Regions from separate parts of the Homo sapiens genome. Here region 2 is linked to region 1. A link means that fine-mapping ties the variant in region 1 to the expression of a gene that starts in the linked region. Tissue or cell type: gastroesophageal junction. Region 1 holds a variant in brackets; the other region holds the start of a gene. All regions are shown on one strand. Distances are between the middles of the regions.

Region 1 (7,881 bases):
TGTGGCCCAGGGTTGTCCTCAGAATGGCTCATTGGAGGAGCAGGGGTCTGAACATCTAGACAACAGCAGGTTTTACTATCCGGGTTTCAGCTCCACTTGGCTCCACTGAGTGAGGGCTTTTGGTATGTATCCTCCTCTCCCTACATTCTCATTGTTATTTTCCTATTTCCTTGATTTTGTGCCACACAGAATACAATCACGCAAGCTTCCATTTGGGGAAAGTGGCATAAAATAAAATGCTAAATACAAACACATAGTAAAGTAAAAAAAAAAAAAAAACAGAAATTTGTTTAAATGATGCCACTGTTGTGTCTAGACAGAGACTGAGTCATTTAAATGTCTTCTCAGAGCATCTTATTTTTCTTTTCTTCTTTTTTTTTTAGGGCACTGCCACCCAGGCTGGAGTGCAGTGGTGGTTATCATAGCTTACTGCAGCCTTGAACTCCTGGTCTCAAGCAATCCTCCTGCTCTGCTTCCTAAAGCACTGAGATTACAGAAATGAGCCATTGCACCTGGCCTCCAGGCATCTTTTAACTCTCAGCTTTATCCATCCACTCATCCTATATTTACTGAGCATCATCTATGTGTTGGGCTTCATGACAAGTGCCAGGATGTGCATCCATGGGTTCAACCCTACTCCAAGGGCAAGCTGTCTGCTGCTTGCCCCTTCCAAGCTACACAAGCCTGTGGGCAATTTGTCTGCAGCAGCCCATACTTAGCCTGCTGGGACTGTGGGGTAAGGAATGAGATGGGCTGGAATGGTTAGTGCGGTTACCGCCACAGGACCCACTGAGGGCAGAACAAGAGGAAATGGGCAGAAAGAGCAGGAGGTATCTGGGTTTGACAGAGTGAATCCTTCCCTCTATTAGGGCAGGAGGAGCTGTCTCAGCTGATGGGGGAGCTAAAGAAATGGAAGTGCCAACTAACCTCCTCTAGGAGGGCTTCCCTGGATCTCACAGACTTCTGGGGACATGCTCCTGGTCCCACCCAGCACGTGCTGCTGTCGTTACCACAGCCCTTAGCACTGACTCATACAGCGCCTTGTGTTGTTCTCCACGAAACTGTCAAGTCAGGGAGGTTCATCTTCATTCTCTGCAAAGAGTACTGGATGCCAGCAATTTCCCACCAACCTTCAATAAGTAGCTGAGAGCTGCTATATGCCAGGCACTGGGATGTGTCCATGGATAAAACAGACACAAATCCCTGCCCTTGTGGAGGTTACATGCTAGCCATTATAAACAAGTTATACAGATTTTTAGAAGGTGATCAGATCTATGGGGGAAAATTAAGTAGGATAACTGTGTGTATGTACACAGTAATTCAATAAAAACGATTTTTTAAAATAGAGCCATGAAGGGTTACAGAGAATGCCCAGAGTGAGGAGTCAAAGGTGGGAGGAAAAATTGCAGTTCTAAATCAGACAATAAGGGTAGGTGTCATTGAAAAAGTGACACGTGGCCAGGGGGCAGTGGCTCACATCTGTAATTCCAGCACTTTGGGAGGCTAAAGCGGGTGGGTAACTTGAGGTCAGGAGTTCGAGATCAGCCTGGCCAACATGGTGAAACTCCGTCTCGACTAAAAAATACAAATAGTAGCCGGGCCTGGTGGCGGGTGCCTGTAATCCCAGCTACATGGGAGGCTGAGGCATAAGAGTCACTTGAACCCAGGAGGCGGAGATTGCAGTGAGCCAAGGTCGCACCACTGCACTCCAGCCTGGGAGACAGAGCGAGACTCCCTCTAAAAAAAAAAAAAAAAAGAAGAAAGAAAAGGAAAGAAAGAAAGGAAGGAAGGAAGGAAGGAAGGAAGGAAGGAAGGAAGGAAGGAAGGAAGGAAGGAGGAAAGAGAAAGAAAGAAAGAAAGAAAGAAAGAAAGAAAGAAAGAAAGAAAGAAAGAAGGAAGGAAGGAAGGAAGGAAGGAAGGAAGGAAGGAAGGAAGGAAGGAAAGAAAGAGAAAGAAAGAAAGAAAGAAAGAAAGAAAGAAAGAAAGAAAGAAAGAAAGAAAGAAAGAAAGAAAGAAAGAAAAGAAAGAGAAAAGTGACATGTGAACAAAACTCAAAATGAGTTGTGCTGGTAACTGAGGAATGTTCCACCGCAAGGACCTGGAGGATGGAAAGAGTGGCTTCTGCCCCACCCGTCCAGCTCTGCAGCTCCGCGAACTTTGCAGGTCCCTAAGCTGTGGCTTGGCCTTGAGCCTCTCTGAGCTTCAAATGCTTTCGCTGCTTCCCTTTTGCCTTTGGGTGGTGTCCCAAGGAGGCGATAAACCACTGTTGAACCTCAGGGTCCTGTACTACAAAGGATTGTTTCCTAGGTACTTAATCAAGCTGAGCCTCAGTTTACAAATCTATAAAATGGGGATAATTATTTCACTTCCTTATGGAGTCGTTGGAGATCAAAAATCCAAAAGAAAAGAAAGACTCACAAGGGGGAACTGGCAGTCTCTGAACTGAGCTGAGAGGCTCTTCATAGGGCTTTAATTTAGGAACTGGGCTAAAGGTTAATACTGATTCGCTATCTCATTCTCACAACAGCGCTATAACAAAGATGCTCTTAAATCACTGTTTTTACTAATTGGGGAATTGACGCATACAAACACTGAGGGCTCTGAGCTGCTGGGTGCTAGAGCAAGACCATGAATCCAGATCTGTAGGAATCTAGGGTTGCAGCCTACACACCACACAACCTCTTTTGAATCTCTCAAGCCAAATTTTCTTTGGTGGTGTGAGCAGGAAGAGCCAGGTTCTAAAACCTAAACTAGACACCGCTCTTCTCACATTTCCTCCCAATCAGCCCTAATCTCTGTGGCCTCCTTTGCTGGGATACAACCCAGCGGTTTTCTCTGCTGCATTCTTAAAAGAGAACGATACCCCCCAAAGCCGAGGACCTGATTAATTTGGGCGACTGTGGGAGGGAGAGAAGGGGAGGCATTCTTAGAACTGGGGCCTAGGCTGGGGATGGCGGGCTCCACTTTCGGCACATTCTAGAGACCATGGGCATGGGGGTTTTGAGAGAAACCTGTGACTCACCTCGCCTCTCATGGTCTGTTTCACTCGGAGGCTCACTGTCTTCCCATCATCCTCCCTCAGCCCCCACCGCCAACACTACCCGGCTGCCAGCACCCCTCAGTGACCCACCCACCTACTCCTGCTACCTCCCAGCAAGCCTACAGCTCAGCAGGGCAGGGGCTCCTCTCTGCGGGGCTAAAGAGCTACAAATCCACTGAGTCTGAACGTCCCTGCAGCAGACCCCTGTAGCAGCCTCCCTTCTCAGCAAAAGCCACACGGCGTTAATCACCTTTATCCCAAAAAGAGGAGTCCGGGGCCAGCCTAGGGAGTTAAGAGTAACAACTGCCACTCTTATATAAAGGGCACATGTGAGGGGATAGAGAACTCGGGAGATAGAGCAGGGAAGGGGCAGGAAAGCAGGTTTCTTGACTTCTAAATGCAGTCTCCTAAGTTAAATTAACCTGCTCACACTGGTACAATGATGGCTACAGTACCCACTGTATAATGCATGAGAATATATGATAATAATGAGTGCTAACTATGTGCCAGGCTGAGGCTTTTCCATAATCGTTTATATAACTATGCTAAGTCTTTCATATGATTTTTTTACCTGATTTTTCATTTAGTCCTCACCACCTTCTAAGGTTGGTGATAATATTGTAGTCTAGATTTTCCAAGAAGCAGATGCCAAAACAGGATTACACATACAAGGGTTCAGTTAGGGGAAATTTCTTTATGAGAGAAAATAGGGAGTGTGAAGCGAGGCTGGGGAACCACCGGTGTGTGACCCCACTAAGGAAAGAGGGAGAGGAGGATGTGCACAAGGGCCCCAGGCACAAGTGTCTATGAAGTTGCCAGGGGCAAAGCTGGCCATCCTTCGAGTCCTGGTTCTCCCAGGAACGGGTGCGTCTTCACATCCCTGTTGTACTGTCATTGACTGGGAGCACGAGAAAGGAAGTGTGGCCTCCACACAAATGAGACAATGAATTTCAGAGTGCCATAGCTGGGGCCCTTGGACAAATAAGCTCCCCATAATAGGAGGTCTCTGGGGCACATGTTCATGGGTGCCTCAATAATAATTCCCATTTTACCGGTTGACAAGCTGAGGCTCAGAGAGGACAAGTCATCTGCTCATAGTTGGGACCCAGCTTAGAGTAACTCCAAAGATTTATCTTTGTGCCATATGCAACTGAGCTACTGACCACCACATCCCAAGCCATCCCCAAGACTGATGCCTCAGATTCGGTACCCAGCAGAGGGCTGGGCACACAATCAGTGTCACATTGGGAGGCAATGTGGCTGAGCTCCTGTCTAGTGAGCTCCTGTATAGTGGGTCCTGCATGTGTCCTGTGTGCCCCACAACACCTACAACCCGGAGTCAAAGCCGCCTCCTCCTCCCTGCTATTCCTAACCAGAGGCGTGCCTCCTCTGTAACTTCCCACAGCACTCTGGGCCTCTCTTACAGCACCCACCAGAGTCAGCCTTATGTCACTTATGTTATGTGCACACTTGTCATCCCCCACAGGCATTTGCATGCCAGTCAGAGAAGCAGGTAGCCCGGTCAAGATCAAACACCAGGAGGCCAA[A/T]CAAGGCTGAACCTCAGATTTTTGTCTTTGAGCCATTCTGCCTACATGCCCAAAATGTATGCAAATAACCATAATTGAGTGAGCAGGGCCACTGATATGGGGAGATGTTGAAGGAATCCCCTAAACCCCTCTACAGCTGACTTTTCCACTCGCCCACAATGTGGCCAAGGGTCTACATCTATCAGTTTTGGGAAGTGCTATAAATGCCCTTTTACTCTCGGCTGACTGACTCTACCCCCAGATTTGCTGCTGACAGCAAACCCTTTCGTAAAGCTCTCACTTGGAAAGCAATATGCAAAGTGCATTCATTCATAAATCGATACTGTCTTTTTGGCAGTCCCTATCAAAAACTAAAATGTGTATACCCTTAGATCTTGCCATTCCACTACTAGGGATCTATACTACAGAAATCCTTACACACACACTCGAAGATACTGTACAAGATATTTGTGAGATCTATATAAATAGTAGAAAAAGGGGGGGAGGGTAGTCCTTCAGTGCAAATGAGGTTAAAAGACAAATAAAAAAGAAAGGAGGTGAGAAATATCCATCCACAGCAGATAAATTGTGGTACATCATACTATAAAATACTCTGCAACTATTTAGAAAAAGAATGATAGTTCTATGAGTTTGATCATGGAAATTCACAAGATATGCTAAGTGAAAAAAGCAAGCTGTATGTTGTTTCATGGGTATGAAAAAGTCTGTCAGTTGCACAACAATGTGAACATACTAGTGAAGTTTACAGTTAAAAATGTTTAAGATGGTAAATTTTCAGTTAAGTGTATTTTATCACAATTTTTTAAAAGCAGGTTGCAGAACAATATGCCTAATGATTCCATTTGTACTTGTTATAACTGCCAAAGAAACTTCTCAGTTGTGCTTATAAGTATATTTGTATCTAGATAAATTTTCAGAAACTTTTTGGATAAAAATTTCAAAAAAAATAAAGCTGTTCAATGAAGTTTTTTCTGGAGAGGGAATTGGCATCACTGAGGTGGAGACGTTATAAAGAGAAAGGTTCACGCCTCACTCTGTATGTCTATATATGTACATATAATGTCTTGTTTGAGTTACTAAAATTACTTGTGTTAATTTTCCTTTAGATGCTTTCATCCATCCAACAGATACTAAGCACCTACCCTGAGTCAGCTGTCATTTTCAGAGCCTGAAATAAGCCGATCAGACTGAATTTCTCGTCTACCCTTTCTCTTCCTTGCACACTGGCTCAAAGAATGCCTGGCTGTCATCCTTCCCCTCCTGCCCTCGACCCTCCTGTGGGTGGGTAGGGCTAGAGTCTCACTATGAGGACCATTTCCTTAGAATAGGTTTGTGACCAGAAAAGGAGACAGCTGAGTGCCAGAAAACCAAAGGCCCCTCTAGGTCTTACTACAAATACCAGGTCTCTCTGCACCACAGACTCCAGCTAACCAAGGTCTCTGTCTTAGACTTAGATGAGATCGTGGTTTCTTTCAAAAGTAAACCTTTGACTGGTGAATTCAGAACCACATGTCTCCAGATCAGAAGGTAAGGGCTAGGAGAACTCAGCTCATTCTGAAACTTGAGGCCTTATTACCCCAAGAGGCAGTAGCTGTTTGAGGAACAAGAGACCCACAGCTGCCTGGACAGAGGAAGGAGCAAGATCACGTTTCACACACTCGGACAGCAGTAGTCAGAGCTAGTAACTGCCCGGGGCTAGGACCAGAGCCACCCAGACAGGATGCTCATTTGCATAACTTGTACAGATACTTTGCATATCAGGGTCCTGGAAACACTACTACCCTAGGATCAGAGAGGTTGAGACTAGTATTTGGTCACACAGGACCTCAGAGACAAAACCAAAACCAAGGGGTGGGGGAGGACTTAGGAAGGGAGGACTCATGAAGGGGGAAAGTGGAAAGTCAGTCCTGGTATTTCACTTGCAAATCCTGGCAGGGGTGTGGGATGGCAGTAGGAAACTTTACTGTCCCTGAGAGCAAGAAAGTTATGCAAACAAATGCATTTGCATGGCAGCCCTGGTCCCTAAAAATGACTTATCAAACACAGGTTCCACCACCTTGGCAGCCCCACCTGAAATCCTGCAGGCTTGACAGCCAAAAGACTTCCTGGCCAGAGGCTCTGGGCAGTAACTTACCTTCCAAGCAATTATGACTCCCTCTAGAGGAGACAAGTAAATTCCAAGGTAATTCTGGGTTCCAGATGGTGGTGTGTTAAAAATGGAAAGGGTGGACGCCAAGTATATTGACATTTTTGTGTGTGAGTGCCAGGGAGGCTCCCAAGGGCTCCACTTTTAAACTGAGTGGAGTAAGAACCATGAGGACAAAGGGATGAGAAAGGCCTTTTAGTGGCAGAGGGAAGAGGGGCAAGGAAGCCCCTAACAATTGCTCATCCTGCTCTTCCAGGAGGGCTCTCAATTTCATGTAATGTCATCATTTTCCATGATGATTCAGAAAGTGCCTAACTACAAAAGATCTAAGTTTAAGGTGTACCACTGTAACACTTTTTAAAAAATTAATGAATTGAGTGAAACGTGGCAAAAGCCCCATCAGCCCACATCCCCAAATTTTGTTTTTCAGGGAGCAAACATCATTTATGAGGCAAATCCAAGTTGGAGGGGCTGGAAAGGGAAAATGGACAGAAAACACCAAGGGCACCCCACAGAGAGGAGTAAATCAGATTTCCATGAGCAGAACCCATGAGGGGTCAAAGGTCAAGCTAACGAGATGAGCAGACAGACAGCAGTTCAGACCACAAGACAGGAGGGGTGAACCTGTTGGAGAAGGAAGGATCTAGCTCTTGCAGAGAGAAGTGAGAGCAGAAATGCAATGGGGAAATCTCCATCATGCTATTCCATTTTCTGCCATCAAAACTGTCAGTCAGGTGCCAGCTTGAAGGGCTGCTAGGAAGCTCTCCTGGGTCTCTAACAGAATAGCTCCACCTTATGCACTCCAACCACCTCTGCTCCTGTTCTGGAGAGCATCAGTTCTTCTGTTACAGCGATGCCCGCCACTTCTCTATGCTGAGCTCCACAAAGGCTAGACCCACTTCTGGACTCATCTGTGTGTCTCCGAAGTCCTAAGCACTGGGCATGACACAGAGGAGGTGCTCAAGATGAGCTGAATGTTGAAAATGTGACATTTTTACTCTTGGATAGTGGCTGAAGGTCTTCTTTTTAAAGAGCAGCCTAGGCTGAAAAGGCCAAGGCACTGACCTGTCTGAATGGTGGCCCAGAGCCCAGGGGGCAGTCCTATCTTTCCACACGAGTTGCACTTCCCCCACCTTTCCAAGTCTTGG
Region 2 (6,371 bases), 130 kb after region 1:
GGGTCAGCCAGCAGGGAGCAGGCAGGTCTGTGATGCAAGCAGAGAAGGTGGGATTGTGCCCACTGGGGAAGGGGGCTCTTGCTCTACCAAAGAGGAGGCTGGATGCCATGGTGCAGAATCCTCTGGGGTCTTGGCTCCTACTTGTCAACCACTAATTAATTTTTAGGTTTACAATTGATGTTTTCTTATCCAAGGACATCTGGTATACAAAAGTTCCCCTAGCTTAAAATGTTTAGTATTCTCTGAATAGCTTTCCTCTGTTCCCTAAGAAAGAGGCTTCCTCAGCAGCTGTGCTGCAAAAGACCCCAAATGTATTGCACATCCGAAGAGTGGCTAAGTGGGAGGTGAAGGGTGGGTACAGGGGTCTGTTGTAGGCACTGTCCTCCTCTGGGCTCCTTTGACATTGGCCTGGTGGCTGGGATACTTCAGAATAAAGGCCTAGTGGGTCACAGGTTTAGGAGGAGTTGGGGCTGGTCCCTAGGCCACTATAGGTGGTGGGCAAACATTGTAGAAGGCCTAATGTTTAGAAAGCCAGTGTGGAATTCTCCTTTGTGCAACTGCGTCACTGAATCAATTGGGATTTTTTATTGGTGAATGGACACTTGGAAGTTTTAATATGCAAAACATAATTTACTTTTATTACTTAAATTGCTTAATGTAATTTTAATATGCAAGACTTAATTTACGAAGAGCCAGGATTCCGGGTGTTTAAATCCTTGTCTCCAGGGAACACAGCTGTCCCTTTGAGGAAAACCTAATTTCTCTTCCCTGCCTGTGTGACTTTGGGACAAATCTGGGACAACAGTGAATTCTCTATTACTGTTATTACCACCCAAGTAAACTAAAAATCCGGGATGAGAAAAATCTTACAGAAAATTCTAGCTGAGGCTTCTAGCTTATAGTACAATGAATAGACCTTAATCATAGAATGCCTTTAAGAAAAACATTTAGGCCCGACTTGGTGGTTCACACCTGTCCTGTAATCCCACCACTTTGGGAGGCCGAGGCGGACAGATCTCTTGACCTCAGGAGTTTGAGACCAGCCTGGGCAACAAGGTGAGATCCTGTCTCTACAAAAAATACAAAAATTAGCCTGGTGTGGTGGTGCCCGCCTGTAGTCCCAGCTACTCGGGAGGCTGAAGCGGATGGATCGCTTGAGCCCGGGAGGTGGAGGCTGCATTGAGCTGAGATTGCGCCACTGCACTCCAGCCTGGGTGACACAGCGAGACCCTGTCTCCAAGTAAACAAAATAAAATAAAATAAAGAAAAATATTCAAAAAGCCCTCGAGGTTTTTTTGTTTGTTTGTTTGATTTTTTTGATACGGAGTCTTACTCTGTTGTCCAAGGTGGGGTGCAGTGGCACAATCTCGGCTCACGGCAACCTCTGCCTCCTGGGCTCAAGCGATCCTACCGCCTTAGCCTCCCCAGGCATGCGCCACCACACCCGGCTGAATTTTTCTTTTTTCTTTTCTTTTTTTTTTTTTTTTGAGACGGACTTTCACTCTTGTTGCCCAGGCTGGAGTGCAATTGTGCAATCTCGGCTCACCACAACCTCTGCCTCCCGGGTTCAAGCAATTCTCCTGCCTCAGCCTCCCGAGTAGCTGGGATTACAGGCATGCTCCACCATGCCCGGCTAATTTTGTATTTTTAGTACAGACAGGGTTTCTCCATGTTGATCAGGCTGGTCTCGAACTCCCGACCTCAGGTGATCCGCCCACCTCGGCCTCCCAATTCTTTTTCTTTCTTTCTTTCTTTCTTTTTTTTTTTTTTTTTTTTTTTTTTTATTTTGTATTTTTTATGGAGATGGGGTTTCGCCATGTTGCCCAGGCTGGTCTCGAACTTCTGGGCTTAAGCGGTCCGCCCGCCTCGGCCTCCCAAAGTCTGGGATAACAGGCTTGGGCCACCGCGCCCGGCCGAAGCCTGAACTGTTTATCAGTTCAATTATTTTTGCGGAATTGAACCGAACCGAATGGAATGGGAGCTTGCAGAGAGCTTCTACTCAAAGCAGTTCCTAAGGTTGATGGGGTGGAAGGAAATAAACAGAACAGCTATTGGCGTGGCCGAGTCGCTACGGACGGGGAACCCGAGCCGCTCGCGCAGGCGCAGAGCCAGGCCCGCGAGGGGATGGGAAGGTGGGGGGGAGGGGCGTTCCCTGGGCCCTGCCCCTCCCTGCCCTGCTTTAGTTCCAGGTACCGCCACTGGGGGCGGCCGCGGCCTCCCCAGCGGCAACGGCCACGAAGCTGCGCGGCCCTGGTTTCCAGCCGGGCCCTTTTCGCGGCCGGGCCCCAGCATGGCTGCCCCCACGGCTGAGGGCCTGGCAGCTGCTGCGCCCTCGCTTTCTTGACATTCCCTGGCTTCTGTGCTCTCTTCCCCAGGCCACCCCAGCAGACATGTTTGCCAAGGCCTTTCGGGTCAAGTCCAACACGGCCATCAAGGGGTCGGACAGGTGAGGGAGGAAAGGGGCCTGCTCTGCCACGGAACAACCAGACACCTCTTGGGCCCCGCTGGCCCATAGCCCTCGCTATTCTTGGCCGACATCCTCGGGTGGAGGCCGAGGGGTATGCCAGGGAAGGGACCCCAGGAGGCAAGGGTGGGTTAGACACATTTTGAGGTGAGGATGGAGGGGGACCTGGCTCTCTTTTGGATAGTCTAGTGAGTTTAAAAGAAAACGTAGTTAAGTCAGAGTTTACTGACTGCAGACTATTTAAGGTGTTGTGGAGAATGCAGAAGTGAAGGAATACAGAATTCTTGCCCTCCAAAGAGCTTAATGCCCCTTGGGAGAGATCGGATGGGATACCAAGAATTAAAAGTATAAGAGAAAAAAATGACTAGTGATTAATTCTGGCAGGAGAGACAGCTGGAAACTGAGGTGGGAGGGAATAAGGCACATGTGGTAAGAAGAACTGTATCTGTTCAGACAGGGTCACAAATGGAGATTGTGTTTGGAATTTTGTAACCAGTGCTTTATAGTTGTCTATAGGTCTCATGGCATAGTTATTTAATCATAAACTGGCATATTTGCGAAGCATGTATGAGAAAGGAGTGGGCCCAAGGGCTAGGCATGAAGTCAGGAAGGCAGGGCTGTTTCCTGTGTCAGGCTAACTTGGATTGTTCACTGGGCCTGTTTTCCCACCCATAAAATGGGAAGGCATACCCCAGGAATGAGTGAAAATAGATGACAATGGATGAAAAAGAGTTTAGGATGTTTCAGAAGAGTGTGTGTGAGACTAGGACATCATAAACCAGGCAATCTTTCTTTGGCCCTTGTGATTTTATAGTGAGCACTTTTGAGTTCGTTCTTGATATTTATTAAAAGTCTGTCCAGGCAGCATTCACAGTGCTGGTGTGCTTTCCACAGGAGAAAGCTTCGAGCTGATGTGACAACTGCTTTCCCCACCCTTGGAACTGATCAAGTCTCTGAGTTAGTACCTGGAAAGGAGGAGCTCAACATTGTGAAGTTGTATGCTCACAAAGGGGATGCAGTGACTGTGTACGTGAGTGGTGGTAACCCCATCCTCTTTGAACTGGAGAAAAATCTGTATCCAACAGGTATGACAACAGGACGAAGATGGCCATTACCATTAGGTAGTTCTTGCCTAACATCTGCTTCTCTCTGTTTCTTCCATTGTCTCCCATAAAATAAGCAAGCACGAAATCTCCCAATACCATCCCCAAGGATCTTTATGGACCTGGTGTTCCTAGAATTGGGTCTTTCAATTCTAGGATGCAAAAGGTTTTCTCTTATGCAAAACCACTATAGGAGGGATTAAAAAAAGGGCTGACATAGTAAGTAAGGGTGGTTGCAAAGGGAAGTTCTGAGATGAAGGAACAGTGGCTGAGAAGTTTACAGTGGGTTGACTAGGAATAGAGCAGAGGTCTTGAAAAGGATGGAATTTCAGGGCATGTCTTCATGAGACAGAGTCTTGCTCTGTTGCCCAGGCTGGAGTGCAGTGGCGCAATCTCAGCTCACTGCAAGCTCCGCCTCCTGGGTTCACACCATTCTCTTGCCTCAGCCTCCCGAGTAGCAGGAACTACAGGCACCCGCCACCACACCTTGCTAATTTTTTGCATTTTTTAGTAGAGACGGGATTTCACCATGTTAGCCAGGATGATCTTGATCTCCTGACCTCATGATCCGCCCGCCTCGGCCTCCCAAAGTGCTGGAATTACAGACGTGAGCCACCGCGCCTGGCCAAAAATATATATATTTTTTAGAGACAAGGTCTTACTCTGTCACCCAGGCTGAAGTGCAGTGGTGTGATCGTAGCTAACTGTAACCTCAACCTCCTGTGCTTAAGGGATCCTCCCACCTCAGCCTCCTGTGTAGCTGGGACTACAGGCATATGCCACCATGTCTGGCTACGTTTAAAATTTTTGGTAGAGACAAGGTCTCACTATGTTGCTCGGGCTGGTCTTGAACTCTTGAGCTCAAGTGATTTTCCTGCCTCAGTCTCCCGAAGTGTTGGGATTACAGGCATGAGCAGGGTGCCCAGCCTAAAAAATGTTTCTTAAAACTATCTGTAGCAGGATTTTCCTAAAATACTGAAAAGATATACTGTGATAGGAATAAAGCTGGATTGATAAGCTACATATCCAGCTGTTTTCATGGTGTACTTTAACCATAGGTCTCACAGGGATTTTTTAGGCTATGAGTGGCTCTCTAGGATTCTTTGCCTTCTCTGTCACAAATCTCAGGGACTCAGTCTCCTTTTCTCTTTTCCATAGCTGCTGACACCTACTTTGTAACTTGGGGCTTTTCATCCTCCAGGGTTGTCTGCAATAGTGCAATGCAATATCCTTAGGCCACTCCTGCCCCTGATCTCACTTCCTTGCTGTACCTGAAGACAACCACAATGCTTTTTGACCTAGGGGTTTTTGCTGCTAATCACTATGGAAACAGAGGGGATAAAAATGATAAACATGGGAAAGTTTCCAAATTTTATACAGCTGGCTTCCTGTTCTTAGGCTACTTGCTTCTGAAGCCGTAAATAAAAGCTTCATTGGTTCTCTGCCCTCACTTTTTTGTCCACTGTGACCATTTTCTGCTGCTGCAATCCGGATGCCTCCAAATCTCAAGTGACACTCAGTTTCTTAGGTTTTTTCCTTCCTCAAAAATGAAACCTCTCTGGGCATCCCCTTACAACCTTCTCTTTAGCTTTGAGTTGAGTTTCTTTCCTGTATTCTAATTAAAGTGACCATAGTGTTAGGTTTTTCCATTTCTCTAGAAGATTGGCTTTTTGGTAGTAGTGTTTTCTGGATCTCTTTTTGTACAGTGTACACGCTGTGGTCCTATCCTGATCTTCTGCCAACCTTTACAACATGGCCTCTGGTGCTCGAGAAACTGGTAGGGGGAGCAGGTAAGAGGATTCTCCTATATTCTGGCTATTGGCTGAAACCTACTTAGCAAAAGCCAACTGATGTAATAAACTTACCCATTTCCTGTGTTTTTGTGGTTGAAAAATGGAATTTTTTCCCCTATGTGTTTTATGTTTCTCACTTGGCTGGTTCCACACAAGATCTCTGGGCCCCTCTGGCCCTGTTGTAAGGCTTAAATAAGTGTTGTGAAAGTATTTTATGAACCACCATGTGCTATACTGTAAATCAATAAGCTGAATTTAGGAAACTAGGACAAGACAGATCATGTTATAGGCTACTCAAACTTTTTTTATTTTTTTTTTTTTGAGATGGAGTCTCACTCTGTTGCTCAGGCTGGAGTGCAGTGGCATGATCTCGGCTCACTACAACCTCTGCCTCCCAGGTTCAAGTGATTCTCCTGCCTCAGCCTCCCGAGTAACTGGGATTACAGGTGTGCATCACCACGCCTGGCTAATTTTTGTATTTTTAGTAGAGACAGGGTTTCATCATGTTGGCCAGGCTGGTCTCGAACTTCTGACCTCAAGTCAACTGCCCGCCTTGGCCTCCCAGAGTGCTGGGATTACAGGCGTGAGCCACCGCACCTGGCTAAGAGTAGCTCTTTTATGCCAGAAGAATGTTAGGAGCTGAGTCTGGAGTGGAAGTCAAGGTTCCCACTTCTGGCTTAGAAACCACCATTTGAATAAAAATAAATGTCCTGCTATTGGATGGGTGAAGGGGTCATAAAAAGCGTAAGCCACAGGCATAAGGCACTGCGCCCGGCCAGGACACTCAAACTCTGTTTGACCTTTAGCCCCCTAAGGGGAGAAGGTCTGATACTGAAGTTGCCATTTTTCATTTTTATTATGAATAACATAGTTGATAACTAATAACTATTTTTTTGTTGGAAGTTGCCATTTTTCATTTTTATTATGAAAAACATAGTTGATACCTAGTAACTATTTTTTTGTTGAGCGAGTGAGGAAATGATGAAGTAAAACGCAGAGTGAGATGGAGGC

What was found. PIP is the estimated chance that this variant, and not a neighbour inherited with it, causes the effect.
Region 2: EIF2D starts here. The variant in region 1 is fine-mapped to the expression of EIF2D in gastroesophageal junction (GTEx, PIP 0.99).

Annotation. Positions count from the first base shown.
Region 1 is chr1:206,738,011-206,745,891 of GRCh38, reverse strand. No RefSeq gene overlaps it. Among named protein-coding and RNA genes, the nearest start is that of IL19, 29 kb to the left of the region's middle. RefSeq lists enhancers at 675-774, 4,216-4,325, 4,416-4,465 and silencers at 6,232-6,341, 6,372-6,421. The variant A/T (reference allele first, on the strand shown) is at 4,588.
Region 2 is chr1:206,608,362-206,614,732 of GRCh38, reverse strand. EIF2D (eukaryotic translation initiation factor 2D) reads left to right here and starts at 2,268. Exons shown (of 15, transcript NM_006893.3): 1 at 2,268-2,446; 2 at 3,359-3,549; 3 at 5,274-5,357. The coding sequence starts at 2,391. RefSeq lists a silencer at 2,006-2,215 and enhancers at 2,506-2,575, 4,986-5,045, 5,086-5,185.